6 separate regions of the Homo sapiens genome follow, and all the other regions are reported to be linked to region 5. Evidence: microRNA targets listed by miRTarBase, many of them from high-throughput screens and not tested one by one. Region 5 holds a microRNA gene; each other region holds the end of a gene's coding sequence.
Evidence for each region. Region 5 holds the annotated microRNA hsa-miR-6869-5p (GUGAGUAGUGGCGCGCGGCGGC, at 2,892-2,913, shown strand). A microRNA usually pairs through its seed, bases 2 to 8, with sites in the 3' UTR of a target mRNA and lowers its output. Matches are read on the target gene's strand: a 7mer-m8 pairs with bases 2 to 8, a 7mer-A1 pairs with bases 2 to 7 and ends in A, and an 8mer does both.

Region 1 (5,030 bases), not on the chromosome of region 5:
GATGGGGTGTGGGGTGTATATTCAATTGCCCCGTAATGACGACAGCTATAGTAACTGACGACATCAATAGTAATGATGACAGCTCCCTTTACGGAGCAAGTATAAGTGGTATAAGTGCCTGGTTCCTCTGAATCCTCACCAAGACCCCCCAGGGTTCAATTCTGAAATGTCACTTTGCTGGGTGCCTGGCATAAAGTAAACATTCATTATTCTGGATGAAAGGAGTATTGGTTAGAATGAGTCTGGCTTCTGAAAAACAGACCCACTGGTTGGCTGGCCCCAAGGCTTTAGTCCCAGACCCAGCAGGTCCACACCTTCCCTGTCCAGGCCTGGACCCAGTGTCCTCTAGTCTGATGAGAGGGCGACACCTGCTGGTGAAAAGCCGGATGTGCAGCCACAGGTCTCCTTTCTCCTTGAGGGTCTCAAACTCCCTCTGCAGCCTTGTCCTTGGGGCCTTCAGGAGAGTAGAATGGGCATATGTCGACCAGATTGTACTGCGTCCTCCTCTCTAGTCCAAACCATTGCTCTCCTTTCTCAGGATTAAGACTCAGCCTCCGGTGCCTCCTCCCTGCAGTCAGAAGGCCCGGAGGGATCCTTTCCAAAGGTACGTCTGGCCATGACGCTGTCTGCTCACAATTTCCAGTGCTGCCATCTGGGAATAAGATCTAAGATCTAAAGGTCTTGTTGCAGCCTGCCAGGCCTCACCTGATGCAGCTTCTGCCACTTTTCTTTTCTTTTTACTTTTTTGGTTTTTTTTTGAGACAGTCTTGCTCTTGCTCTGTCACCCAGGCCGGAGTGCAGTGGCGAGATCTCGGCTCACTGCAACCTCTGCCTTCTAGGTTCAAGCAATTCTCTCACCTCAGCTTCCCAAGTAGCTGGGATTATAGGTGCCCACCACCACGCCCAGCTAATTTTTATATTTTTAGTAGAGACGGGTTTTCGCCAAGTTGGCCAGGCTGGTCTCGAACTCCTGACCTCAGGTGATCTCCCCCCGCCTCCCCCTCCTTGGCCTCCCAAAGTGCTGGGATTACAGGCATGAGCCACCGCGCCTGGCCTCCTGCCACCTTTCTGATCTGTTTGTTTTGTGTGTGTGCATTGCCTGTCTCCCCCAACTAGAGGATAAACTATTTTGTGGCTGGGCCTCATTGTCTTATTCATTGCTCCATCTCATGGTTTAGCCCAAAGCCTGGCATTCAGTGGATGCCCAATAAATACTTGGTGAATAAATGAATGAATGACAATTACCCTAGCCAGACTGAACGACTGGTCCTTCTGCCCAGAGCACTCCCCACTTGCTCCCCCACCCCACCCTTTTGTATAGCTTAGTCACCGGTCAGATCTCATTTTCGGCATCACTTCCTGCAGGAAGTCCTCCCTGATCTCCTCTCTCTAGAGTGGGCTGGTTGTCCTCCAGCATCATTCTGTGTTGCCCTTACTGTTGCACTTCTCAGAAGCTATGGCAATTGTGTGCTTTCTTTCTGGCCTCCCCCACCTGGCTGTGAGCTCCTTGAGGACAGGGTTACATTTATCCTCTGTGTGTCCCCTCTGCCTAGAAGAGACGCTACCAGGATGAGAGGGTATATACCTTACAGTTACAAGCAAGAATATGGGCACCAGACTTGCCTGAGTTCTAATCTCAATGGTACCAGTCTATGGAACTTTGAGTCCATTCTTCAACCTCTCTGTGCCTCAGCTCTCTAATCTATAAAATGGTCACAAATACAGTGCCCATGTTGTTTCTCTGACACAGAGTAAATGGTCAATTACATGTTAAATGTTAGCAGCTAGTATTTGTAGGAACCTAGTAAAATAGTCATTGAATAAATTAATGACCAGATACGGTGGCTCACACCTATAATCCAAGCACTTAGGGAAGCTGAAGCGGGAGGATAGCTTGAGGCCAGGAGTTCAAGACCAGCCTGGGCAGCACAGTGAGACCTCTTCTCTACTAAAAGAAGTCAAGCTGGGCGTAGTGGTGCACCTATAGTCTCAGCTACTCGGGAGGCTGAGGCAGGAGGATCACTTGAGCCCAGGAGTTTGAGGCTGCAGTGAGCTGTGATTGTTCCACTGCACTCCAGCCTGGGTGATAGAGTGAGACTCTGTCTCTAAAATAAATACAGAAAAACCCAGTGATTTTTATCTGGGAGCTTTGAGACTGACTTCCTTAAATAGGTTGCTTTAGGGTTTCTCACAGTGCTGTGCATGCCTTAGACTCACAGACACCTTCACACCCACACCAGTAACTCCACCTCCTGCTCAGGGAACACGATTGCCCTGAGGGGTGAACCTCCTCCCCCCACCTTTTTTTTTTTTTTTTGCTATCCCTAGAGGGCAGCATGAGCCTGGTATGCAGTAGATGCTCAATAAATAACATGTCTTGTTTTCATTCGTTCAAACATGATACTCTATTTTTGAGTACCTCCCTCCCTTTTGAGAAGCCAGATCCCCTTATTTCCCATCTCAGATCCCCAGGTCCCACCTGGGCTGCCTTATGGGATGGAGTCTCCTGGAGCCAACTTCCCTGAGCCTCCCAGCCCCAACTGGCATGGCCCTCGAGTCTCCCCACGTGGTATCCCCTGCCTTTGCAGTGACCTACACACTCGCCTCTGAGCCAAGATGGCAGCAAGAAACCCGTTGCCCCTCCCCGTCATGCTGGGGCATTCTGACCACTGCTCTGGCCTGCCCTGGGGTAAGATGACAGCAGGTGGCCCTGGGGAGGGTGGATTTTCTCAGGGCTGGCCCCTTCTCATCTTTTAGATCACACTTTGTTGCCTGCGCAGAGAGGCCCTTACCAAGCACTGCATCAGGAAAGGTCTTCACCCCAATCACTCTCCCTCTAGCATCCTGTTTCAGTTCCTGCAGAGCATTCATCGCTGTTCAAAATCATCTTCTTTATTTATTGGGTTACTTTATTTATTCAGGGTGGGTTCCCTCCACCCCAAAAATACCAGCTCCAGGAAAACCATGGTATCTCCCCAGCACTTTGCAGGGCCTGGCATGTGGAAGATGTACCAGTAATATTTGCTGTATGAATGAATGAGTCTCTTCATGTGCAGGTGACTTATCCTGCCTCTGCCACTCGACGGATGTTTCAGATGCCCCTTAGCGGATCTAATGATGTTTCCTTGGCTCAAGCACAAAAGACTCCTGCTTAGCTGGGGAAGCAGGGCCAGGCCCTGGGAATTGCAGCCTCTGGGCATCAGAGCCCGGCCCTTCCAGCTAATCGGCCTGCCCACAGACACAAGAGGAGAGGGCTTTCAGTGAGTCCTTGACTGTTCCCCAAGTTGAAGACCTCACAGGCGCAGCCTTCACGGGTTTCCCCTTAGCCTCGGGAACCTCCTGGGGGCAGAGCGGGCTGACTGGGAAGGAAGCTGAGGCCACAGACCCTCTGCAGAGCGGCAGGGTGGCCCTGGCCTGGGCAAGGCATCCCCCACCCATGGGGGTCACCCGAGTCAGATGGGGCCAGTTTTCCCCACAGAACACGATGTAGGTCTTCATTGGTGGGGTGACAAGCCCTCGATTGGGACTGGGGGCTTGGGGTGGTGATGCGGTTGCTGCCAGGGAGAGCTGCTTCCCGTGGGTGCAGTCAATAACAAAAGTCAGGTGAGCCGTGGGGACGGTCTTCTGATGGCCAGCCAGCTTCCCACCTAGAAGAGAGGAAAAGACCAAAAGTTAGCACAAGCAGGGGACTTTTCTTTTCCCCTGAGACAGGGTCTCACTCTGTCGCCCAGGCTGGAGGTCATGGCTCACTGCAGCCTCAGCCTCAGGGGGCTCAACCAATCCTCCCATCTCAGCCCCCTAAGTAGCTGGGACTACAGGCTCATGCCACCATGCCTGGTGAATTTTAAAATTTTTTGTAGAGATGAGGTTTCCCTATGTTGCCCAGGCTGGTCTCAAACTCCTGGACTCAAGAAATCCTTCTGCCTCAGCCCAATCAGTACTGGAATTGCAGGCGTGAGCCACTGCACCCGACTGGGACATGGTTTCCTGAATTCATTTGTTTATTCATTCGATAGGGTTCAACTGGATTGGTTGATACACCAACAGAGGAGGACAGTCAGGGTTTAAGTGTATGGACTTCAGCATCAGAGAGACCTGAGTTCAAGTCTCCACTTACCATCCATCCATCTGCCTTCCAGGAACACAGAGTCCAACATGTCAGTGCCTCCCAACTTTGCTGTTCCCATGAGCTGCCTGGGGAGCTTGTTAAAATGCAGAGTCTGGTGCAGTGGGGCTGGGGTGGGGCCTGAGACTCGCGTTTCTAACAAGTCCCCAGGGGATGCCAATTCTGCTGGTCCATGGACCATATTATGAAAAGCACAGTCCTCAACCCCAGAGAGGAAAGCCCTGGCCATCTTTCCAGGTGAGGAAACTGAGGCTCAGCCTGCACAAGTGTTGGTGGGTCTCAGGGAGCATCTTGCTACTCTCCCCCTCCCCAGATAATCTTGTCCACAGCCTCAGAGAATCCCATCAGTACCTGGTGGCATTTGCCCTGGCAATCCCCCCGCTCAGAGCCCAGCACAGGGTAGAGGGATGGACAAACCAGCCAATAGACTTATCAATGAAGCAGGTGTCTGAGCAATTGTATCTGAATCCAAAGCCTGTGCTCTTAAAAAGGTAACTTTTTGAGTTACCCAAATAACATACACATCCATTCTCTTAGCTACGTGCTGTGAAACACGACGTGGGCTCAGAAGGAAGCTTATGTTCTAGTAGGTTGGCTAGCACAGGAAATAAAACGAGCCCGCCCTTGGCTGGAGAATCCCAGCAACCCAAGGGAGGTAGCATGTTTGCCATCAGACCCCCACCCACCCCCAGCTGGTCTTGCTTTTTTTTTTTTTTTTTTTTTTTTGAGATGGAGTCTCACACTGTTGCTCAGGCTGGAGTGCAGTGGTGCGATCTCAGCTCACTGCAACCTCCGCCTCCTGGGTTCAAGCGATTCTCCTGCCTCAACCTCCTGAGTAGCTGGGATTATAGGCACCCGCCACCACACCCAGCTAATTTTTTGTATTTTTAGCAGATATGGGGTT
Region 2 (5,110 bases), not on the chromosome of region 5:
CTCAAAAAAAAAAAAAGAAACCCAGTTATTGATGTGCGGCTTCTGTTCTCAGCCAGGAGGCAGGCTCAATGGTGTCCCCAAACCAGTGGTTATGGTTCTCAGGAACAAAATACTGATCAAGGCAAACCTCCTTCTACAAACTTTCCTCTTCATTTAAGGAGCCAAGGCAAAGAGGGACCACTGTGCTCATGGACCCATCGCTGCCTTCCAAGGACCATTTCCCAGAGCTACTCAACTTTTAAGCCCCTGCCATGGTTGCTCCTGGAAGGAGAACCAGCCACCCTGAGGACCACCTGGCCATGCGTGCACAGCCTGGGAAAAGACAGTTACTCACGGGAGCTGCAGGCCCGTCACCAAGCCCTCTCCCGACCCAGGCTTTGTGGGGCAGGCACCTGGTACCAAGGGTAACCCGGCTCCTGGTATGGACGGATGCGCAGGATTTAGGATAAGCTGTCACCCAGTCCCCATAACAAAACCACTGTCCAACACTGGTATCTGTGTTCTTTTGTGCTATGAATTTGGATTCCTAATTGCTATTGTTGGTTGCTGGGGTTTTAAATGATTGATAAGCTTGTACAGTTAACTTATAGAGGGGGAGCCATATTTAACATTCTGGATTTCAGAGTAGAGATTTCTGTGTTGTCTCCTAGAAAGCATTACATGTAGTTTATTTCAGCATCCTTGTTGGGTGGGGCCCTGGCTCTCTTCCCCTTTGGTGGGACCTCCCCTTTCTTTGGGCTTCAGTTCACTCAGGAAGAAATGAGGCTGTCGCCATCTTTATGTGCTTCCAGTGGAAATGTCACTTGCTACAGACAATAGTGCATGAGAGTCTAGAGAAGTAGTGACCAGAACAGGGCAGAGTAGGTCCCCTCCATGGCCCTGAATCCTCCTCTGCTCCAGGGCTGGCCTCTGCAGAGCTGATTAAACAGTGTTGTGACTGTCTCATGGGAAGAGCTGGGGCCCAGAGGGACCTTGAGTCAGAAATGTTGCCAGAAAAAGTATCTCCTCCAACCAAAACATCTCAATAAAACCATTTTAGTTGAAAAGCAGTGATTATCCTGTGTCTCCTTTCTCCTGCTTCAGGTAAAAAACCTTTTATAAAAATATAAAAATTAGCCGGGCCTGGTGGTGCATGCCTGTAGTCTCAACTACTTGGGAGGCTGAGGCAGGAAAATCACTTGAACCCAGAAGGTTGCAGTGAACTATGATTGCATCACTGCACTCCAGCCTGGGCAAGAGGGAGACCTTGTCTCAAAAAACATAACAAAACACGGCCAGGCACAGTGGCTCACGCCTGTAATCCCAGCACTTTGGGAGGCTGAGGTGGGTGGATCACGAGGTCAGGAGATCGAGACCATCCTGACTAACACAGTGAAACCCGTCTCTAATAAAAATACAAAAAAATTAGCCGGGCATGGTGGCGGGCACCTGTAGTCCCAGCTACTTGGGAGGCTGAGGCAGGAGAATGGCGTGAACCCGGGAGGCGGAGCTTGCAGTGAGCCGAGATCGCACCACTGCACTCCAGCCTGGACGAAAGAGGGAGACCTTGTCTCAAAAAACATAACCAAACACAAAAAGCCTTAAGGGAATGGCGGCCACAGCTCTTGTTTAATAAAAAGGGACCCTGAGAGCATCAGGGCTGCGGATGGGATCTTAGTTCCCAAGTCCAGCCGTCTTTCTGGGATGGCCCAGGGACTCTTCCCATGAGAAGAAATTAATGCGACAAGTTAGGAAATCAGAAGAAACATCTAGAACCCAACTGCCGCCCACCTGTTACTTCACATCCTGAAGTCCTGACTGTACAACCTCAGGGACAAGTTTCTCTTCCTTTTTTTGTAAGAGTCTCGCTCTGTCGCCCAGGCTGGAGTGCAATGGCACCATCTTGCCTCACTACAATCTCCACCTCCTGGGTTCAAGCAATTCTCCTGCCTCAGCCTCCTGAGTAGCTGGGATTACAGGCGTGCGCCACCATGCCCAGCTAATTTCGTATTTTAGTATTTCGTATTTTAGCCACCGTGCCCAAATGGGCCAGGCATGGTGGCTCACACCTGTAATGCCAGCACTTAGGAGGCTGAGGTGGGAGGATCACTTGAGGCCAGGAGTTCGAGACCAGTCCCAGCAATATAGTGAGACCTCATTTCTACAAAAAATTTAATAATTAGCTGGGTATCGTGGTACATGCCTGTAGTCCCAGCTACTCAGGAGGCTGAGGTAGGAGGATCACTTGAGCCCAAGAGGTTGAGGCTGCAGTGAGCCAAGATTGGCCCACTACACTCTAGCCTGGGCGACAGAGTGAGACCCAATCTCAAAAATCAAAACAAAACAAAAAGGGAAAAAAATAGTATCTTACCAAAAAAAAAAAAAAGGCAATTCTACAAATTAGTACGAAATTCTTTGGGGAATTCTAAAGCAAGCGCAAAGAGTATGGTCTAGAACACAGGAAGAGCATCACGGTGTTTTCCTGAGGGCTGGGCTGCATCTCTCCACTCTGCCGCCCTCTCTGAAAGGCTCGCCACCTGGCCATTCTGAGAAATCAGTCTAAATAGGAAAGACAGCAAACCCTGCCCTCGCCCTGGGGAAGTGGCGCCTTCAGGCTTCTAGAAGAACCGAGATGAGCTTGTGGGTCTACTATCTAATCGCCTTTTCTACTTGTAGGCTGCCAAGGCCCGTAGAGACAGGAAGCTGGTTTTTCTCGAGGCTTCACATGGTCACCTTATTGCCAACAAACACTGCAAGGCTTTATTAGCTAAAATGTCAACCCACACACAGATCAGAGACCGCCCTCAGCTTCTCTGCGCCTTTCCGCCCCGTCACCGCATCAATGGGGTGGAGGCCAAACTCAAACACTTGCGGGGCACAGACGTCCCAGAAGCAAACATGCAAGTCACGGGAGTTTATTTATTTAATTTTTTTCCCCAGATGGAGACTCTGTCGCCCAGGCTGGAGTGCAATGGTGTGATCTTGGCTCACTGCAACCTCCACCTCCTGGGTTCAAGCGATTCTCCTGCCACAGCCTCCCGAGTAGCTGGGATTACAGGTGCCCGCCACCACACCCAGCTAATTTTTATATTTTTAGTAAAGACAGGGTTTCCCCATGTTGGCCAGGCTGGTCTTGAACTTCTGACCTCAGGTGATCCACCTGCCTCGGCCTCCCAAAGTGTTGGGATTACAGGCGTGAGCTACCGTGCCTGGCCAGCCACTGGAGTTTAAAGGACAGTCATGTTGGCTCCAGCCTAAGGCGGCATTTTCCCCCATCAGAAAGCCGCGGCTCCTGTACCTCAGAATAGGGCACCTGTAAGTCAGTCAGTGAAGTCTCTGCTCTAACTGGCCACCGGGGCCATTGTCTTCTGACACAGCCTTGCCAGGAGGCCTGCCATCTGCAAAAGAGAGTTCACTCCTTCCGCTATTTTCATGTGAGTGTATCCAATTTCCTGAAAAACAAACCAAATTCAAATCTGGTTAATAAGTGGGGGAGTTCTTTTTTAAAATCTGAACTGAAAAAAATAAAAATAAAAACAGAAACAAACTGAACTAATGGTTTTTTCAAAATCAGCATGAGGAATTCCAACCCCAGCCGGAAAATGAATGCTAAGATGCAATGGATTATGTTTACCTAAAGTTCTATTTATTTCTTAAAAGGATGCTGATAGTTCTTTCAAAGAAACTGTTAAGAAAATGGGTGGGGCGAGGGGGGGCGGGGTGGTGGCACGGAAAGCCAGGCTAGAGGAAAATATTTATATATCTGATAAAGAACTTGCATCCAGACTGTATAAAGAATTCTCAAAAATTCAGTAATAAAGTCCAGGCGTGGTGGCTCATGCCTGTAATCCCAGTACTTTGGGAGGTCAAGGCAGGTGGATCACGAGCCCAGGAGTTCGAGATCAGCCTGACCAACATGGTAAAACCCCATCTCTACTAAAAATACAAAAATTAGCCAGGTATGGTGGCGCACGCCTGTAATCCCAGCTACTCGGGAGGCTGAGGCAGGAGAATCACTTAAACCTGGGAGGCGAAGGTTGCAGTGAGCTGAGATAGTGCCACTGCACTCCAGCCTGGGCAACAGAGCAAGACTCCATCTCAAAAATAAATAAGTAAATAAATTCAGTAATAAAAATCAAACAACCCAATTAAAAAATGGGTAGATTTAGACCTGGAGCAGTAGCTCACACCTGTAATCCCAGCATTCTGGGAGGCTGAGGCAGGAGGATCACTTGCCCAGAGTTGGGCCTGGGCAACATAGCAACACCCAAACTCTACGAAAAAAAGAAAATAAAAATGACCCAAGTGTAGTGGCACATGCCTGCAGTCCCAGCTACTCGGGAGCCTGAGGTGGGAGGATTGCTTGAGCATGGAAGGTTGAGGCTGCAGTGAACTATGATCGCACCACTGCACTCCAGCCTGGGTGACAGAGCAAGACCCTGTCTCTCAAAAACATAAAAAAGGTAGGCCAGGCGCAGTGGCTCACACCTGTAATTCTAGCACTTTGGGAGGCCGAGGCGGGAGGATCACTTGAGCCCGGGAGTTCAAGACCAGCCTTGGCAACACGGGGACACCCCGTCTCCACCAAAAATATAAAAATTGGCCGGTCTTAACATGATCTCTAAACAAAAAATACAGTACAATTAAAATAAAAAATGTAAAAATTTTAAAAAATGGGTATATATGAACAGATGTTTCATCAAAGAAGATTCTGGATGGCAAACGAGCACATGATTAAATGTTCAGCATAGTAATTAGGGAAATGCAAATTAAAGGCACAATGAGATCTCATCACATGCCTATTAGGTTATTTTGTTGTTGTTGTTATTGGTTTTTTTTTTTTTTTTTTTTTTAAGATGGAGTCTCACTCTTGTCGCCCAAGCTGTAGTGCAGGGGTGTGATCTCAGCTCACTGCAACCTCCACCTCCTGGGTTCAAGCGATCCTCCTCCCTCAGCCGCCCGAGTAGCTGGGATTACAGGTGTAAGCCACTGCATCCGGTCATTACACACCTATTAGAATGGCTTAAAAACCAAACTGAGCACTCCATGTGGTGGCTAGGTTGAGGATCCTCCGGAATGCTGGTGGGAATGCACGTGCTGCAGCCACTTCGGAAAACCGTTTGGCAGTTCC
Region 3 (5,130 bases), not on the chromosome of region 5:
CTATGTACCGCTCTGCCTTTTCTAAAGGACGTGGGTTGGGATTCAAAGGACATGGTCTTTAGTCAATACAGACATTGTAGACAGCAAACACAAATCAATAGAAAAAAATAACTTTTTTATTTACAAAAAAATCCAAATATTGGATGCTGTAAACAAAATTCACAATCTGTTCCCTCTAGCACTGATTCAAACATGTCAGTTTTTTAGTCCATTTTCCATCAACTCCTTTTCTGCCTGTGACGCAGCCTATAGTCAAAATATTCCAAAAGAGTGACCCAAGGTGCAGCTTGCTGCAACAGAACACCTCAAAGCAGGCATGATTGTAGAGAGGTTGGAGGGAGAGACAGCCAGCAGGCAGAGCCTCCTCCGTTCTGCAAGGCTTTGCAGCAAGTCTCGTTAACTTGACATCTTCCAACTTTGTACTTTACCATTTGCTTTGTTAGAAAGCCATTATTTTAACAAAATATAACATAGAGATTCTTTCTTAGCACTGAAAATGCTATGCTAAAAGAAATTTTAAAGAAAGATTATATTCAAATAGATGCTATATATGAAATTACTTTTTTTGGCTTTTTGGTTTCACCTAACACACTTCATCTTCAACAACAACAAAAAAGCTTATTTTTGAACTGACAGCTTTCAACATAATACATTTCATTTACAAAATAGTTCACAATATTTATTTAACAAGCGTTGCATTGAAAACAACTTTATGCACAGTGAAGCAACCAACAATAAGCAAACAGAAAGGGGTGGTAAAAACAGTACGTTCACTTTTCATTTCCTTCCTTGGTTTGGATTACACATATTCTTCCATCCTTGCATTTTTGGAGCTACATTATTAGTCCATCCAATACCAAAGTGAGCAGATACTTGATCCCATTTCTGGAAAGGAAATGTCCATCTTGGTGTAGGAGTTCTTGAGGCAGCTGGATTTACTGCAAATTAAGTAAACCTTTAAAAACGGCATTGTCACAGGCTATGTGTTCTCTGACATGCCAGGCTGGACAGGTGAGAAGAGCCTCCAAAAGACAAAACTTCTTCCTGGTTTAAAGAAACAGCACACTAGGCCAGATAAACACAAAAGGAAACAAATCACAGGCGCTAATAGGGAGTCGGGAGCTGTTCTTTTCTCTGACCTATACACATGGCTCTCTCTCACCAGACATTCAAATTTTTAGGCCGCACATCCACAAAGAGAGACATATATTTCACTGTGTGTTCAACTACATATGCACAAGACTATAGTACACACAAAATAGAAATAAATTATATAAGTCTTAAAGTAAATGCTAGAAGTTGTCTTGAGTACAGCCTGTTCTATATGAATAGGTGCCAGGTGCTGGCACTTCCAACTAAGCTACCAACCCTGAAGTAAGCAAGAAAAGAATATAAATATTTAAGAAAATAAATCAAAGTGTATTTCAAATAAGGCTCTTCCAAACAAAAATCTGTGTTATAAATTAACAGCAGGTTATTGTTATGGCAGAGTCAGAGACCTCCAGACTCTTTAAAATAGTAGACGACTCATTTGTCAAGAGTTAGGGTAAGAAAGCAGATCACCAGCTGCTCCTGTGTTCACAAGTGCTCCCCTAGTTTTCTTTCAGAAAACTTTGAAACAACTAAGCAGGCGGAGCTCTGGTTTCTGATAGGTGAGTGCCAGGCTTAATCTGCAAACTGAACAATGTTTCCTGGGAAGTTGCAATTAATTTTTCAAACCCAGGGCTTAAGTGAGGGAGACTGAGCCAAGATGGTAGTAGGAGGAGTTCCTTAGAAAACTGAGTGGCAGTGCAGCGGCTGTTGCAGCTCTGACAGAATTCACAAGGAAGCTGCTACAGCAAACCCATCAGGTTCCCATTAAGGCTTCAAAGAAAGATGCACAAAAGGTAGTCCAGACGGATTAACCTGGATTAACCTAGCACTAAGCATCTGAGGATCCCTAGATAAACAAACAAACAAATTATACTGCCAACAGGAGGATATTTTTTTCTCCCGTGGTCTCTCTTTAACTGATGATGAAAATCTTCTAATTGGGTCTTCGAGGAATTATCATAGCAAGCAGTCATCCACTAAGGTTGTGGAGATTATGTGGTTGTTTCACAACACAAAGGGAAGGTTCTTATGTGTTAGTTTTGTTTTGTTTTTAACAAATGCATTTTCAGAGACCAGTATCTAGAGGAACTACTGGCTAGGAGAAAGGGTGGTTTTAGGATTAGCTGTTATTGAACTGAAATAGTAATGCCAGTTCATTTCACAAAGGTATAACTGGTATTTTTGTAAGAAAGAAAATAAAGTTGGATTTGATTTAATGGAAAGCGATTTAAAGTACAGTACTAAATATTTAAATGCAGTGTGACAACCAGATCAAAGATGTTTCATATTGACATGATTTATAAAATGTTATATATAATATATATCTCATATATAAATTTTAAGCAATTGTGCAAATATTCTGTAAAAAGGGTCATTTCACATTACTAAATTCTAGTGGTCCAGAAATGCAGAATGCATTCATTAAAATTCATTTAAACATTAGCAAGTAGTGTTTAGATCACCGGAAATCCTTTTTAGCAGTCAGGGATTTAAGTAGCCTATTACTGATCCATGATCCACTAGATTAAACATCATAGAGGAATGCAATTTTTTTTTTAATAAATGGGTTCCAACTGTCAAAATGGCAGTTCAATATAAAAAAGAGTGCTCTGCCAAACAAATATTCTCCCATTTGTGGAATTTTATGGCTCACCAAAGAAAAAAAAAAAAAGAAAAAAAAATCCCACTAAAACAGTATAATTTCTGCTCTTCCTATGAAATATATTACTTGGTTCCCTCCTTCATTTAATTTTTTTAGATGTGGATTTAATTCATCATTGCAATATGCCCACGTCTCATGTTATCCTGTTGAAAACATAAAAACACACAGTATTTAAACATTTCCTATTTGAGACATTATTCTAGATCATAGTCAATCTACTGTGTATATATACATATAAAATGTATATATAAAATGTATATATACACACACACATATAATTTATACACACATACACATGTACCTATGATAATATCAGATCAACAAATGTTAACTTTATACAAGTATTTGCAAGAAAAAATAGGGCATTTTCTCCACCATTCACAAGCTTATGTTATTTTCTTCTTGAGGCAGTCCCTGATAAAATAAAATAATCATTAAACCATAAAATAATTTTGCCACTTCAAATTTTCAGAAGGCAACAGGCACTTTGATGTATATTGGTGTGTAACAAATATAATCTCTCTTCATATAGTCTACTATATCTCTTCTAATTGGGTATTTTTATCTGTTAAATCTTTGGTCCTTGAGCACACTTTCTTTGTTACAGCTGTTTTTGCTTGCATTTTTACATTTTAAAAATGTGATCTATGCACGCAGCTGGAATTAATGGATTGTGTCATCATAAGTTCTGCTGATTGTTACGAGAACTGCACCAACCTACTACTGTTCATTTGGAGCAAGCCGTTTGTTAGCAAAACAAGATCATTCCACAGAAAGCACTTGCTACAAGCCTCAGACAGTAATCCCAACGTTGGAGTTCCCCTTTTTCCTGTATTGTTACTATTAATATCTGAACTCCTAAACTGATTCACAAGTTGGAGTGAGACCTTTTTTCCTCCGTATTTTCCCTTTTATGAATTCCATCTTAAAAGAAACTTTCCACTTTTTTTTTTCCTATGGCAAAGCTATGGGAGCAGATACAGCAAACCCATATTGTCATCACACATTTCTTCTCTTGTATCAGGAGAACCTGGTTGCTTCTAATGACAGGTCTCTCTTTTTTTGCAGGATAGAATCCAATTGGGTAGGAGAATAAGAGAAGGGAAAAGGATCCTTTCGAGATCATGCTCCCACATCTATTAAAAGATACATAAGCTTTGCCAAACTTAAAACCAGGAGCATATCATCATTGCACAAAACACATCCCTAATAAGGGCTGGATCACTCTTTTTTTTTTCTTTTTTTTTTTTTTCTCTCCTGTCTTGTCTGAAATGGCTTCCCCACAGGACATTTTTAAATGATTCTTAATTGCAGGGTAGCCAAGTGGAGTAGGTCTGTTGCTGGCACGTGAATACTGGCTGAACCTGTGCAATGTAGTAATTGCTAAAGTTGGCATCTGCTACATAGGGGGCTGGCTGGTAATAGCAAGTGACATTAGCCACATTAGGAATGACATTTTGGTCAGCTAACACCCGGATAGCCAGCATGGTGATAAGGTTTAAAGTCTGTCTTCTTTCATGTCCCATCAGGCACACTGTGCTCTCATTTACCACTCCATGAAGGGTCATGAGATACTCATACTTGCGGTCTTCCAATCCCACAAAGTGGTTCTGCAAATAGGACTCCAGTTTTCTCTGCTGCTCTCCAATGTCTGAGAAGTCGATGAAAAACCTGGAACACATATACCTTTGAAGGGTCTTGATTTCATCAGAGGCGGGCCTAAAGCCCCTCACCAAGAGGTTGCAGTACTTAAGCAGGCCTCCCCCTCGGATTTCCTCTGGGTTCCTGGTGGCAATGATCTTGTTACAAAGGTGATCAAAGGCTTCCTGGAAATCGCCATAGACGCTCTCCCCGATTATTGTGGGGTGAAATGTCTCAGTCATTGGGTTCTCTGAACATTCATAAAAGAGCAGAAGAGAGTCTAATTTGATTTGAAAAGAATCTACACTGAATTCAAACTGCCTCCGGAGGGAATCCACAAATTTCAGTTCCACATTTTTGCCACTGTTGTTTGACAGGGATATAAGACTCCATCGGTCAGAGTCATTGCACACTTTAACCATTTTCTGCACATAAGCTTCCTACAATTTAAAAGATAAAACAAAATGAGCAAACCTAGAAAATAATAAATCAATAAATAAATACATCCTCTTCACAGCTGAGAATTATTTTGCTCTTTCCCTTTTGTTTTGTCAAGTTTCAGCCAAACACTACCTACAGGCTTAAACGGTCTTCTGAAAATAGAAAAAAAATACTTTTAACGAGTAGTTTTACTGTCTGGGAAAGGGACTAGAGGTAATAGTTTGAGGCTTTTGGCAGACGTAGCACAGTAGTAAGAGGTTTTGTTGTCATGTCTGACTTTTTAAGTGTTACTT
Region 4 (5,130 bases), not on the chromosome of region 5:
TCATGGCACTGGTGTGTATTTACATGCATACCTACAGTACATTGCTGTGGCAGGCAGAACTGTAAGATGGCCCCTAATATCCCCATCCTCTGGTGTATACACACCTTCTCTCAGTTATTCCAATCAAATGGCGATTTAGCTGCTGCTTTGAAGGGATTTGCAGATGTAATTAAGGTTCCCAAAGTCAGGTGACTTTAAGAAAGGGAGATTATCTGGATGGGCCTGACGTAATTTAAAAGGGACTGGGCCTTTGACAAAGAGAAAGTGTGAGAGGGATCTGAGGTGAAGGAGATTCTCACCACTAACCCTGAAGATGGAGCGGGCTACATGGCAAGGAATACAGGCGGCCTTCAGGAGCTGAGAGAGAGAGCTCCTGGCTGAGGGACTAAAGGAGACGTCTCTTCTACAATTGCACAGAGCTATCACAACCACTTGAATTTTGAAGAGGATCTTGAGCTCCAGATGAGAATACAGTCCAGCTGATACAATGATTTTAGCTTTATAAGATCCTGAACAGAGAACCCAGCTACATCCTGCCCGAACTTGATTTACAGAACTGTGAGTAATAAATGAGTGATGCTGAAGCCTCAAACATCACTCAAAGTTTATGCTAATTGTTATGGCAGCAACAGAAAACTAAAACTGAATATTTATTTTGCTTCACAAAACTGCAACTATTATTTGTCAAATATTTATTGATGTTAAATCCACATTACACCAGCACAACAATCCAAAGTAGTATGATTGATTGATAGTACTTTTTTTTTTATAAATACAATATAAAGGTGGCAAAATAATGCTAGTTAATCCCAAACCCAGCAAATCAGCAAAAAAAGGTCACATTCAGAAAAATTTGGCAAGTAAGACATAAGTCATAATTCTACAATAGAGATAGGTCCATGAGAGACTGTGTATGGTATCTTAAATTCCATATTAGCAATGCATATAAGTGCGGTCAAAGAAACTTGAACCACACTGCATAGAACATCTGCCACCCGGTGCTCAAGCCTATTAATCACTTAAACCTTGGTTGGTTGGTGTTCTTACAAAGAAGTAGAAAGCTGTACATGTGAAACAGTAATATGAAATATATGGGGTGGTACACAGATATAAAATTATTTTAAAAAATACTACGTATGAATTGAGTAACTGAGCTAAGAGAGGCCACTTATAAATAATGAAAGATACATGTGTTTTGCATAAGGAATACAGTGTTTTCTTTTCATAGCAAAGTACCATTAAAGCCTCATGTTTTATACTACTAGGTCAAATTATTTTTTCTCCTTTTTAAAATTTATCGGTTCCGACTTAAAACCATCAAGTCTGGTCAGAATCAACTCAGTCTAGCTGATGCAAAATCATATGCATTCAAAAAGCAGTCTTTACCGAGATGCCTTTACAAACCTTGGAATCCAGCACCTTCTTAAGGCAAAGTTTCATGGCAGCAGGGAAGTGAACTAATAATTTTCATTTACCACATCTTGGTGTCTTTGAAAAAATACTTTATGGCACAAACCTGTTTTTGTCTCTCCTTATGTCTCCACTTCCTTCAAGTAGACTAGATGCTACAGGCAATTTCTCATTTATGCCACCATGCAGTCTCAATCCATTTTCAACTTGCTCTACATACCTAAAATCTTCCACTACTACACAAACCTCAGACACACTGCAATCTCCACAGCATGTGTGCTCCACAGCATGTGTGCTCCACACTTCCAGCTGGCCCTGGGTTCCTTGACTTGTGAATGGCAGTGTTTTTTTCACCTATGTTTGAAGAAAACCAAAGAAAAGCCTGGCCTTTGCTACCTCTCCTGTGCCTTCTACTTTTATCTAAATGAACACACTATAATCATGCTGGTTGCATTTTCCTTCATTCTCCTCCCTACTCCTTCCAAACCCCTGATTCCTCCAAATACTATATATGCCTTGGTCATTTGGGTGGTTTGGATGCTTTCTGTGGAATGAACTGTAATATATTTCTGCTTTATTCAGAGCACTTTATATTATTTATATTTAAATTAGCCTTTTAATATGGTTTGTAAATAAGTTTCCTACCAAGGTAGCATGAAAACACTACACATAAAGAAAAAAAATGTTAAGAACTAAGGTATTAACCTTGTTAGAAAACTCTTTTGATATTAACATTTAAGGCAAGTAGTTCCTTCCTTATGATTTAATATAAAAACATTTGCAAAGACAAGGCATTTACTTGGATTTCTTTGTCATCTCTTCTTCTTTCATCCTTACATATTGCACTTGGTTCACTGTATCTGTCTGAATACACTGTGCTTCAGAATCATTGTAGTACTGTTTGTGGTACAACTCCCTCATTAAACATTTCACACTATCAGGCTACACAGCACCTATATCTTGTGTTTAAAGGCACTTGTAGATAATACAAATTGTAGTTACCTGTGAACAATTGATTTCCTTTAGTATTTTGGCATTTTGATCACTTTAATCACAGCAATTCCAAAGTTTTAAATTGGACAGTAAATGTGTATTTTCTGTGCAATGTGTATATTTGTATTAGCATTATCTACTTAAACTAAGTTTGGTATATCAAGTAAGAAAAATATTATTTTGGTGTTTTTTTTTTAATTTCTTATAGTCAAAGGTATGTTTCTGCCTTTTACATAATGTGACAAAGGAATATGTTGGTCAAGGCAATGGCTGTTTCAGTGTTTCAGCTTTAACAAGAATGCTGGATTACAGGTCCTCACTTTCTACCAAGGCAGTATTCAGTGTCAGGTGAGATGGGTTGGCCTCAGGTTGGAACGCTGCTTTGATGTCTAGTCCCTGGTCCGAAAGTGCTGCATAGCGACTGGCTGAGGGCCGTACTTTTTTTGGCTTGGTGCTCTGTGACTGCTGATGCCACTGGGCTACAAAGAAAAAGAGTAAATTAAGATTTTTAATCAAGATATACTTGGAAAGCCTTTAGATATTTCAAATAAATACAGAATGTCTAGATAGATGCAAGGCACCTGAACACATCCATGGTAGAAACATGGAAAATTTAGGAACACTTTTGCATTTTACTCACATGTTGCAGATTTACTGTCTATACAGGATAGTGGGAATAAAGCAGCTAGATTACAAAGGTCAAGTGTAGTTTATCTTTTTTTTTTTTAAGTAAACACTGCAGCACAGGGAATCCTTTGGAATAGCTGATAAGCTTCCTAATTCTCATCCCCCCTCTCCTTTTAAAAAATATTTTCTCTAAAATAATTATAGCACTTAGGAATTCTGCTGGATGTGGATGCTTTAACACTAATCAACTGAAAGGAATCGTACAGTAGGGAAGGTTGAGGCCACACATTTCTTGATGACCCTCACATAGTTATTTCAAGAAGAGGCAAAATCTGAAATAAATTCTTAAATAAATTCTTAATTTTTTTCTAGTGTTTTTTTTATGTCAATGGATAACATAATGCTGATTGTACTAGACTGTAAATTCAATAGGAATAATTTTCTTTAAATTTGGGATGCATGTACACAAATATACAAACACAAGTCTACTGCTGGCTGCTTAAGATATATTAATGAGAAAAGCACTAAGCCACAAAAGTACGCATTCCAGGATCAATGGAACACACGTTTAGAGTGCATTAGGACACTGCGATAGAATATAGGAAGAAATGTTAAAAGGCAGTCATTTGCAGAACACAGTAACAAGAACATGTGAAAAACATGGTTATGCCTTTGCCTACTGTTAACTCCTAAGGATGCTTGAGTAAGGAAGCCACAACTAACTAGCCAATGTAAGAGAAATCAACATGCATATTTTGCTAATAATTCAAAGTTCCTGAATGATACTTGGGTATTTGTTCTCCTGGTGTGGTTCACTATTAATGTCGAGAAACTACAAATAGAAAGAGAGAGAGAGCAATATGAATTTTTTTGACAAATAAAACACAATAGTTGTTTATAAAGAGTAATGTGATTTGCTGTCCAGATGTCTAATTTTTCATAATTTAATGAGTAAACGCAATGAAATGAGATGAAGTGGCACTCACTGTAAACGTCCAGCCTGGCAGTACAGGACACAATCCCTGCTTCATTCTTGGCTGACACAGTATACCACCCAGCATCTTCTTTTGTGGCTCCCTGAATGAGCAGGCAGATGTAGCCGTGGTTGTCCTGGTGCATGCTGGAGAAAAGGATAAAGTCATTAGGGTTCTAAATTTTTTAAAAGTGGCTTTGGACATGAAGCATCATTTTTAATTAGATCATTAGAAACAGAATTGTGCAAGTAGCTGATAATAGGGTCATACTTATTCTGTAGAGATTACTAGCTCCATTAAAGTTAATGGGAGAAAGAACAGACGTCAAGAGTTGAATACATCTGTGTGCTTAATTCCTAGTTGAGGATCTGCCTTTACAAAAACCACTGAATAGTCTTTTATCACTAAAGCAAATGAATTCATCTTTTCTTTTAGATAGAATGATAAACACTTTTAAGAAATCACCATTAGATCAAACACCCATAGCTTCCTTCTAAAAGCTTAATCCTACATTGGGTAACGCATGGTTTTTGTCTTTGATTGATTTCATCAAAAATCAAAACATCTATGTGGCTTTTACACATAGATTTCCATGCTATATAAAATGTATCTTTTGATACATCATTAGGACTGAACAGTTAAGGATCAGGTTCTCATTGTGCAGTCTTACCTCACTCGGTCAGTGCTGTGAGTGAGTGATTCATTTTCTTTCTTCCAAAATATCTGAGGTGGTGGCACTCCCAATACACGACATTCCAGCCGCACTGGGTACCCATCAGCAACTCCTGTGTTTTGGAGCTTCTCAATAAACACAGGGGGTTTGTGTGCTTCTTTAGCTAAGAAAACATGAGATGAATTCTCTATCAATGATATACAAAAGGAGCACTAGAAAGAATTCAGAAGGCTTTTGGAATATTGCTTGAATAGATCTTTTATGATACCATTTTTTACTCCAGGTGGTAAGATGCTAGTCCCCTCTCCAAATTATTCTTTTACCAAGCAAAGGTCTGTATACTTCATTCCGCTCATTTATTTCCTCAATTAATTCAAGTCTGATAGGCTCACACTGTCCACTGGCCATCTGCTTCACAGAATGCCTGTCTGACCAGCTGTGGGAGACTCCTAA
Region 5 (4,874 bases):
GCTTCAGGGAAAACGGAATCCAGGAACTCTCTCGCCCCTGGTTGCTCTCATTCTCCATCATTTATTCTCGCTGCAGTCTGATTTTCTCTAGGTGGTGTGAAGCAGTGTCCTGGCGACTGCTGGGGCCCTCTTTTTAATTTCATCTTTCGATCTCCATTCTTCCATTCTATGAGCACAGAACCTCTGATTTTAGTTGGGTGTGTGTACACCCAGAATGAAGACTTTATTCCCTAGCCTCCCATGCAGCTAAATTTGACCATATAACTAAGTTATAGTCAATGTGAAGTATAACGGGAAGAGATGTGTGCAATTCTAAGTCGTACCCTTAAAGGAAAAGGGAATGTACCCCCCATTCCTCCTTTCCCCCTTCCCACTAGCTGAGATGAAAATATGTTGGAGAGCCAACTTGGACCATGCATATGAGGGTAGGATTCTAAGGATGGGGAGCCACAAGTAGAAGAAGGATGAGTCCCTGGGCAGCCTGTGAAGTCCTACCTGCACTGAACCACCTGCCTCTGAACTGTTACATGAGAGAGACAGCAACTTCAGCCTCTTTTCAGCCACAGTTAATTTGGTTCTGTTACAGCCTGTATTCTTACTACATTAAAATTTCCAAAGCAGTCACGAGCTCACTGAGATTTTAGGAAAGGGGACATAGATGAGGGTTGGGGTGTCAAAAAACTGTGAGGTCATGTTTAAAACACTACAGGAGCTGGTATGGTTTAGTTCTGTGTCCCCACCCAAATCTTATCTTGAATTGTAATCCCTATAATCCTGAGGTCAAGGGAGGGACCCGGTGGGAGGTGATTGGATGGTGGGGGTGGTTTCCCCCATGCTGTTCTCATGGTAGTGAGTGCATTCTCATGAGAAATGATGGTTTTATAGGTGTTTGACAGTTCCTCTTCACATACTCTCTCTCATGCCTGCTGCTGTGTAAGATATGCCTGCTTCCCCTTCTGCCATGATTGTAAGTTTCCTGAGGATTCCCAGCCATGCAGAACTGTGAGTCAATTAAACCTCTTTCCTCCATAAATTACCCAGTCTCAGGAATTTTTTTTTTTTTTTTTTTTTTTTGAGACTGGTTCTCACTCTGTCACCCAGGCTGGAATGCAGAGGTGCAATCTTGGCTCACTACAACCTCCGCCTCCTGGTTTAAGCAATTCTTATGCCTCAGCCTCTCAAGTGGCTGGGATTACAAGCCTGTGCCACCATGCCTGGCTAATTTTTTTGTATTTTTAGTAGAAACTGGGTTTCACCATGTTGGCCAGGCTGGTCTTGAACGCCTGGCCTCAAGTGATCTGCCCGCCTCAGCTTCCCAAAGTGCTGGGATTACAGGCATGAGCCACCGTGCCCAGCCTCAGGTATTCTTTATAGCAGTGTGAGAATCGACTAATGCAGAAGCACACACACACACAGATCAGAGAAAGATTAGTCACATGTGCCTCCTTATGTCCTAGACCATGTCACAGTGTTCTCTTGCGTTACAGTGCCTCTGCAGGTACTGCTCCTTCTGCCTCCCCTTACCCCAACACATACACACAATTGGCCTTCTAACCTTGGCTAAACCTGGCTAAACCTGGCTAACTCAGGGAAATATCTGACCACATTCCAGACTAAGTGAGGCATCTCTGTTATATTAACACGCCCCTCACAGCATGTATTACTGTCTCATAATATTACAGATTTGAAACTTTACATTTATTCCGTATCTTTTTTTACTTAAACAGGTTATTTGATTATCTCTCCCACATCATACGTAGATTCTGTGAGGTCAGGGACTAAGTCTGACTCCTTCACCGCTGTATCCTCAGCACCTAGCACAGTACATGACATACAGAAGGTGCTTGTCAAAGTCAAAATAAAATATGGAGATGAATCTCTAAATGTAATGTTTTATTTGGGGAAGCGAGAATCGCAACTCGGAGCATACACACAGATCTGGTGGTCTTTGGTATGTCCGAAAAACAAAGAGAAGGCTGGGCGTTTTATTAGAAAGGGAAATGCATTGGCACTAGTAAAGTTTCAGGGAGCTGGCAAGCTCTGATTGGTGACTGACAGTGGTAAGTAAAACTAGTATTAGGTTATGGCGGGTTGTTTCAGCAGTTACTAGCTGAATCTGGTCTCAGGGGGACAGCAGGCCATTTCCGCAGCAGTTAGTGGAAATATTGGTTCTTGGAGCAGGCGCTGCGTGCCTCCAGTGCTTTTCCCCTGGCCCCTGGATTCTGATTCCGTTGGGCATAAGAAGAGTGACCCAATTCGTATTATCAACTTTCACATGCTCAATAAGAATGTATGCATGTAAGCTATGGGTGAGTGAATGAATTTGGACAACTCCTCCTCCAGTGAAGAAAAGCAGAACTTACAACCTTGAGCCACTTATAAAATACTAACATACTACCACCACCTGTGCGCTGTCTTCTCAGAACCATGCTCTTCCCAGGATGAGTAACTGTGTGCTTCTAAGTGGAAACCTGATGACAGTCACCCAGTCAGTGACTGGCGGACCCCCTATTATTACTCCCATTCTTTGGGCAGGGAGATGCTTAACCGGCTGGAAGCACAGAGGAAGGGCAGGAGAACGAAGCAAGTCACCCGGCAAACACAGCTGTATCCGGAGGCCTCCGGGCTTCCGGAGGTCTCGGGGCTTCTGGGCTTCCGGTCCCTCTTCCGGAGGCCTGGGTTTCCGGGACGTCGCGCGCCGTGTGGGGCGCGCACGCAGGGCTGGGCGTGAGGGGGCGTGCGCGTGCGCAGGCGACGCGCCGAGGTACTAGGCAGAGCCGTGGAACCGCCGCCAGGTCGCTGTTGGTCCACGCCGCCCGTCGCGCCGCCCGCCCGCTCAGCGTCCGCCGCCGCCATGGGAGTGCAGGTGGAAACCATCTCCCCAGGAGACGGTGAGTAGTGGCGCGCGGCGGCTCGGAGTACCTCTGCCGCCGCGCGCATCGGCTCAGCATGCCCGTCTCTGTCTCCTCAGGGCGCACCTTCCCCAAGCGCGGCCAGACCTGCGTGGTGCACTACACCGGTGAGTCGGGGGCCCAGCGGGGAGGGGGCCCGGGCCGCAGTCCGCAGCCCGGGTGCGGCTGGCCGTCGAGGCCTGGGGGCCCGGGGCCTGGGGTCCGGGGCGTGGCGGCGGCGAGGTCCGCATGGCCCGAGGCTGAGGCCTGGGCGGTGGCTCAGGGGCAGCCTGGGGCTTGCGGAACCCGGGCGGGTCTGAATCGGCGGCTGTGAGCGTCGGCTGCGGGCTAGGTGTTATCTGACCCGTCAGAAGCATTTCTGCACCTTAGATGCTGCCCTTATGCCCGCTGCACAGATGAGGAAACTGAGGCTTGGCGAGGCGAAGTCACTTTCCCAAGGTCTCACTTTCCCAAGGTCACACTTTCAGGAATGGGCAGAGCTCTGGCCAGGGACCATTAGGAAGGATTTGTACCATTTCTGTGCCCCTGCCCCCACTTCCATCCCTCCCTTCACTGGAGATGAGGACGAGGTAATTCCGAGTCTGCAGAGCTGCTGCTTCCTCCGGGGAACTCGGAATTCGCCCCTTTGCCTAGGGTGGGGAAACATCCCACTTCCTAAGTCATTGCTTTGGCCCTTCCTGGCCTTGGGGGAAGTAGAGCTGCACGGCCTTCTTCCGTCTTTTTACTTTTGAGCCACTTACAAATCCAAGGCTCAGTGACAGCGCTGGCTCAGGCTGACCGAAAGCTGCACGTGTAATTTAGTCCCCCAGCTCTTCTAGAAGTAGAGACTTTTCTCGTCCTCATTTTAAAGATAAGCATCTGGAGGCTAATACATAGTGATAATACAAGCCAAAGGAAATTTTAGACACCTCCCCCTCCCCAGCCAGAATTCAGACATCAGAGTCGTGTGCCTTGGGGCTGTCTTACTCCTTCTCCTTACAAGCTTGTCCTGGTTTGTATGGGGGCGGGGGAGGGGGAGAGCTGAGTTGGCGGAGACTCAGTGGCTGTGGGTCCCACAAGGGTGGCAGTGATTGGTGTAGCCACAGTTGTTGATACGAATAACCTTCCCTCCCCCTCCTCCTTCCCCTTTCTCAACCTTCCCACCCTTTCCTCTGTTCCCCCTCCTCCTCCCTCTTTTTTTCCCACTCCCTCTCCTCCTCTTCCTCCTCCTGGGTAGTAGGCTGTGGGCAGTTCTGGCCAAGTTGCTCACGAATAAGCTCCACCTTTCTCTTCCAAATCATGGAAACATGGAGGGATCCCTCTATTGAGGGAAATGACTTTCACTGGAAAGAGGAAAAGGCAACTAACATCCCCCCTCCCATGCCCTTTTATTTCTGTGGCCCTTCCCCGTGGGTAGAAATGGGGGCAGGAGGTAGAAGTTAAGGACTAGAACTTTAAAAATTCTGCCAAAGGAGGAGTTACTGAAACCCATCTTTCTGGGGAGCAGGCAGTCTCATGTCCGTGAAGGAAGCTGGAAAGTGCTTTTGATGTTTTAGATAGCTGTCCTTGTAGGCCACAGTCAGCACCTGAGCCTGGGAGGTCTGGTAGATGAAAGCGCATCCTTTTGGTGATTTGTCATCGGAAGGATGAGGAGAGTAACCATTTACAGTGCTGGGGTGAGTGGGCAGTTCATTCAGTTCCGCAGCCAACTGGGGCAAAGATTGGGACTCAAGCCGTGAGGAGCTGCCTTCTGCCGCACCCCCTCCCCACCCTAGCTTGTACATAGCCACACTAGGGTGCTTGGCAGCATGTGTCCCACTCCCACGTCTGCCCCTCATGCTCGCCCATGTTCTGGTGCTGCCAACAGGACTGGACCCCAGCATGTAGGCAGTGCCGCACTTCACCATGTCTCTTTGTGAAATATCCCCACACAGCATGTCTGGAGCCTTTTCCTATGAGAACAGATGGTCATGAGACCCAGAA
Region 6 (5,075 bases), not on the chromosome of region 5:
TCTTGTAATTAGCAACCAAGTTAATGATTGCATTCAGGATTATCTAAACTGTTTTTACAAAAAAAAACCCCACGAATTAGGAGCCTAACAGCTTTCTATTTTTTTAATTAAAAAAACTGATTCTTTTTAATTTTTTCTTTTTATTTTAGGCTCAAGGAAACTTCCCTGCTAGTGAAACTTCACTCTCAACACCACTCAATGATCTAACAGCTTCCTAAATCCAACTTCATTCTTTTTGCAGTTTAAGCCCAGTTTCAAATAAGGCATCACTGGGATGGATAAAGAAAACACTGAGATGGGGGATAGAAACATTAAAAAGCAGAAAAACTAAGCAAAATCTAAATCCTGTCAATTGGATGTTTACCATTTCACACTGAAATCTTTCCCTGAATAGACCAGGGACATCACTGCCTCCTGCTCAGATCTCAAAGCTTCAACATGCTCCACAAAGCACCTCCCTAAGTACCCTAGTGTGTTCCCTGGGAGAGTTGCTACACAGCCCATCTACTGGATTTAGTACCATAGTCCCAGCACTTGGCCCAGGGTCCTAGACTGCTGGGTAGGTCCTCAGAGGTATCTGAAGTCATGTCTACATTGATACAAAGAAACGTATGGCTCATCTGTAACAATACGTAGAGAAACACAATTAAGAACAATAAGGATCACAGAACTCGAATGGATCATTATAACTTCAAGACTCAGTTTAAGTTACCAAGAAATGCACTGTAGCCCTTTTCTCACTTTTATATTCAGATCAGGGCTAACCCTAACATGTTCTTAAATGACCACTTATGGTCATTTAAGTGGTCAATGGGAATATTGCAGCAGAGAACTGCTGTTTTGTTTAAACGTACTAGCCATTAGCATTAAAAGAGTCTAATGAACTCATCTAACACCTGGACACATTTTTAAAGTTCATCATTTACCATATGTAAATTTGACAACAATTTTGACTTGCAATGTCTGTTGTTCAAAAGCAAAGTCAGACTATCTAAATCTTGTTTTCCTTTGGTCCTACTTAAAAAAAAATTAGACATCTTGTCAGTTTTATTACCATCAGAGGCACAGATAGTACTACAGTCACTCAGTTTAGAAGGAAGACACCGTGCTCCAGAGTAGGTCAGCCCAGGCTACCATGAGCTCCTCAGCCCTTTCAGCTTTGGTGAATCTGTGACCCTGTGACCCTCCCCTTCTAGAAAGAGAAATTTGCTCTAGAAAGATACCTTGCTCTGGGAGGTATGGCTCCTAATCCTTGTCTCCCTATTATTGTGTAGAGGCTAACCAGGGATTGGATCCTATTCAACTGGGTTCCTCTCTTTTCTGCCTCCGCTGGTCAGATAATAGTCTTTTCAATGGTCTGTTCTCTTCACTCCTCTATAATGTTTTCCTTAGTCTACCTGTGCACTGGCACACTCCAACCCTTTGGCTGTAACAAACTTAAAAATAAATAAGGCTGTAAGAGTTCTAACCATCAAGAGTATACCACACTACGTTTCAATTAAATAACCATTTTATGATACTCAGAATCTTGTACTGAGAAAAAGCTTCATTTAGACTCTAAAGTTTAGAGTAAGCAAGATATTTTTGTATCAATATAGTGTTTAAAATAATGCTTAAAGAACTAAAGTCCTATCCTTTGGTCAAGAGAGCAAATGAAAACAGTTTTTTGTTTGTTTGTTTGAGACGGAGTCTCGCTCTGTCACCCAGGCTGGAGTCCAGTGGCACAATCTCTGCTTACTGCAACCTCCGCCTCCCGGGTTCAAGTAATTCTCCTGCCTCAGCCTCCTGAGTAGCTGGGACTACAGGCGCGTGCCACCATGCCCCGCTAATTTTTTGTATTTTTAGTAGAGACGGGGTTTCACAGTGTTAGCCAGGATGGTCTCGAACTCCTGACTTCAGGTGATCCACCCGCCTCGGCCTCCCAACGTGCTGGGATTACAGGCATGAGCCACTGCACCTGGCCGAAAACAGTTTTTTTATCGGCAAATTAGGCTTTGGTTCCAGGTTTCATTCCTCTGAATATCAGCAACCAAAACATTTTAACAATATGCAAGTATAGGCAACCTCAACCCAAGTAGAGAGGATGAAATGTAAATTCTAGTGACATCTTAAATGTTTCTACAGATGGCTACCAAAAGCAGAATCTCTTGTTTGGATGGATGGGACAAGTACAAACCAGAACATAATTCAAGGATTCGCTAACTGCATGCATAACGTTCCAGAACTGTTTACATCCACATATGGACAGAAATCGCTGGTAAAGGTCAAATCCTGTTATCCCTCCTTCTGAGGGATTTTCCAGAATCTTTGGCTGGAATTATATTTTTTGCTGTGTTGGTGTTGGCTAATTATAACATCTTAAGCATGTACTCATTACTCTGTCACAGGTTATTAGACACCTATAATAGTCTCAACTTAAGCCTGCCTTGGGAGAAGGGCAAGAGAGATTAAAAATAAATAACTTGGCCAAGTGCAGTGGCTCACGCCTGTAATCCCAACACTCTGGGAGGCTGAGGCTGAAGGATTGCTTGAGCCTGGAGTTTGAGACCAGCCTGGGCAACACAGTGAGACCCTCTCTCTAGAAAAAAATTTAAAAAATTAGCAGGGTGTGGTGATGCATACCTATGGTCTAGCTACTCAGGAGGCCAAAATGGAAGGATAACTTGAGCCCAGGAGTGGGAAGCTTCAGTAAGCTATCATCAAACTGCACTCTGGCCTGGATGACTGTCTCTTAAAAAAGAAAAAAGGAAAAAAATAAAGACTGACCAAGATACTGTGATTTTACTGCTATTATTCATAAGGCTGGATAGAAAGGGCAAATACTGGCTAAAAAACAAACAAGAACAAATACAAGCAGCAATTAACATTTCTGGAATTCCAGACCCAAGTTCTAAAAGGATGTCAAAATTCAGGAAGCCTACACTTGATTATAATCACCTATAAGACAGAAATCACCTATAAGACAGAAATCTAGACTTTCTACTGAGCAACTGCTTTGTTGTGATAATGGAAAGGTATTTTCCATGTCACCAAATGGGAGAGCTCTACCAACAGAAAAGCAACACTGGCAGCTTATGGAGCTAACAATAAAGCTAAGTTACATATATCTATATAGGATAATATAGATATAATAAAATATATATGCATTTTAAATATACATATTAAACATGTACATACTTAATATATGTCTAAAAGCATCCCACTCCAACAGATGCCCTACACATAGGGTTTGCTTCTCATAAATATTTAAAATTGTTTAGAAACTGGGAACAGATTGAAAAATGATTTTGTACTTTTGCAGTTTACTTTTTTTTTTTTTAAGATGGCTGTTTCATAAATTAGTTCCCTATTCCTAACTTTGGAGAACCTGGTTTTTTCTTACCTTTCAAGGTCCAAATATAAAACTATAAACTTTCAGTGTTGGACATTCTTGCTTTTTGAAAGCAAATTCCTCCTCAATTCATGACCTGTGGGCCAGCTATCATGAATAATACACCCATAGCACTTGGGTTTTATGAATGTGACTTCTAAATCCTCCTGCATAATAGCTTTAGGTGACTTGAAGAGTTAAAAGCTGTCATTGTCATCAATATTTACTGTACATCAAACTCATTTAAAATGCTGTTAGAAATTGCTGACTGGCAAGACTGTCACTGACAAAAACACCAGTTTAGGACAGATTCCATGGGAAACAAACTAGAATAACTGAAAGCTAAAATAGAGCTTAATGGTAGAGAAAGTCTCAGAAACAAGGACAGAGATCACAGAAAAGACAAGGAAGGACTCCTATTGTTTTTTCTGATTTTGAAGAGCTCTTTGTGCTTACCTATTTATCCTAAACAAAAAGGCATGAGTAAAAATTTCCAATGTATTACAAAGGGTATTCTGTCTAATGTCAGGCTGGCTCTCAGGATGTTATAAACCTGCCCAGGTATTAGACTTCTGATGAGACTGTGCCTTAAGGACAGGAATGGCACTTTCCTACTAAAAACTACTGCCATCTGGGGAGCAAAGACTGGGGATAGAAAACTACAAGAACAAACCTGTCTAGTTATGACTTTGTGATCCAGAAGCCTCTTGACCTATGGTACTAGAGCAGGTGCAACATTCTTTCCCTCTCTCCACTGAGCCACATAAAGAAGTCTACAGCACTTCCAATGTAAATCCCAACTTCACCGCTTCATCTCTTGGAGAATGCACAGTCCAAATGTATAACCCCTAAAACAGGAGAGTAATTAAGTTTTGGAGCTACTTTACAGTACAGTTCAATACATACTTATTGCATTCCAAGAATACTTCATATCTGCAAGAAAGCCTGAAACCGTATTTTCTTCTTTTTGACTCTGTCCAGCTACAAGCTCTGCTGCAGTGTGTATATACAAATGCCATTAGCTTCAAAGGAGGAATAATATCTAGCCACTTGGTTAAAATTTCAAGTGTGCAAAATTTCCCACTGTGGAACTGGGAAATGTTGGACACTTGAAATTTTAACCTATTGGCTAGACATTCTTCTATCTACCTTCTCAATTAATCACTACTAAGACTCAGACCATTGGGAACACATACTCCTTTCTGATTTTTAGATACTTCTGCAAAAGCCATCGCTTCATACACACTATAGAAGAGAAGGTTTTCTTCTTCCTTTTTGCAATATTCTCCGTTGGTTAGGGAATCCCTCACAGTGGGATTGCACTGAGCCAGCAGAACCTGGATTCCAATGGCTTCATAATCTCTGCGAACTTCTTTCAGTGTGTGGATCCCTGCTGTATCTAAAAATTGAATTGCACTGCAGTCAATCACTATAGTATGCAGCTCCAAGGGATCATGGGAAAGTTGCACTGACATTTCATCCTGGATTCCACCAAGAGTCACTACTTTTTCTTTGATCTTTCTCTTTGCTGCCTTCTTCCAAGCCACCTTTATTAAGATTGGGTTGACAGTTTGTTTGTATAAAGCAGATTTAAAGCATTCTTTGTTTATGTAGTAGAGAGGGGCTACAAAGCGGAAAATCTTGATGCCTGGCTTAATCTGAAGGTTCTTGTAAGCAGACACAGATTCAAAGACCTCAGACTCTT

Region 1: miRTarBase lists SRARP as a target of hsa-miR-6869-5p. Seed matches in the 3' UTR shown: 7mer-A1 at 2,412-2,418.
Region 2: the mRNA of RFC2 is a reported target of hsa-miR-6869-5p. The part of its 3' UTR that is shown has no 7-base or 8-base seed match.
Region 3: the mRNA of TENT5A is a reported target of hsa-miR-6869-5p. Seed matches in the 3' UTR shown: 7mer-A1 at 1,305-1,311.
Region 4: miRTarBase lists PALLD as a target of hsa-miR-6869-5p. Seed matches in the 3' UTR shown: 7mer-A1 at 1,142-1,148.
Region 6: the mRNA of SLC26A2 is a reported target of hsa-miR-6869-5p. Seed matches in the 3' UTR shown: 7mer-m8 at 1,787-1,793.

What each region holds. Positions count from the first base shown.
Region 1 is chr1:16,004,536-16,009,565 of GRCh38, reverse strand. It overlaps SRARP (steroid receptor associated and regulated protein), which reads right to left. Exons shown (of 2, transcript NM_178840.4): 2 at 759-3,647. The coding sequence ends at 3,220. Among named protein-coding and RNA genes, the nearest start is that of SRARP, 2.8 kb to the right of the region's middle. RefSeq lists an enhancer at 4,645-5,030.
Region 2 is chr7:74,228,786-74,233,895 of GRCh38, forward strand. It overlaps RFC2 (replication factor C subunit 2), which reads right to left. Exons shown (of 11, transcript NM_181471.3): 11 at 2,717-3,431. The coding sequence ends at 3,321. LAT2 (linker for activation of T cells family member 2) reads left to right here. Exons shown (of 14, transcript NM_032464.3): 14 at 159-1,049. Among named protein-coding and RNA genes, the nearest start is that of LAT2, 21 kb to the left of the region's middle. RefSeq lists an enhancer at 580-859.
Region 3 is chr6:81,745,636-81,750,765 of GRCh38, forward strand. TENT5A (terminal nucleotidyltransferase 5A) reads right to left here. Exons shown (of 3, transcript NM_017633.3): 3 at 95-4,836. The coding sequence ends at 4,060. Among named protein-coding and RNA genes, the nearest start is that of TENT5A, 4.5 kb to the right of the region's middle.
Region 4 is chr4:168,923,965-168,929,094 of GRCh38, reverse strand. PALLD (palladin, cytoskeletal associated protein) reads right to left here. Exons shown (of 22, transcript NM_001166108.2): 19 at 4,675-4,840; 20 at 4,017-4,150; 21 at 3,817-3,862; 22 at 654-2,882. The coding sequence ends at 3,849. It also overlaps a transcript of CBR4 not described here. Among named protein-coding and RNA genes, the nearest start is that of CBR4, 84 kb to the left of the region's middle.
Region 5 is chr20:1,390,979-1,395,852 of GRCh38, reverse strand. MIR6869 (microRNA 6869) reads left to right here and starts at 2,892; the gene lies at 2,892-2,953. FKBP1A (FKBP prolyl isomerase 1A) reads left to right here and starts at 2,799. Exons shown (of 5, transcript NM_000801.5): 1 at 2,799-2,891; 2 at 2,972-3,019. The coding sequence starts at 2,855. FKBP1A-SDCBP2 (FKBP1A-SDCBP2 readthrough (NMD candidate)) reads left to right here and starts at 2,681. Exons shown (of 10, transcript NR_037661.1): 1 at 2,681-2,891; 2 at 2,972-3,019. RefSeq lists silencers at 2,743-2,792, 2,993-3,092, 3,103-3,172 and enhancers at 2,907-3,407, 4,199-4,712.
Region 6 is chr5:149,981,266-149,986,340 of GRCh38, reverse strand. It overlaps SLC26A2 (solute carrier family 26 member 2), which reads right to left. Exons shown (of 3, transcript NM_000112.4): 3 at 1-5,075. The coding sequence ends at 4,528. Among named protein-coding and RNA genes, the nearest start is that of TIGD6, 17 kb to the left of the region's middle.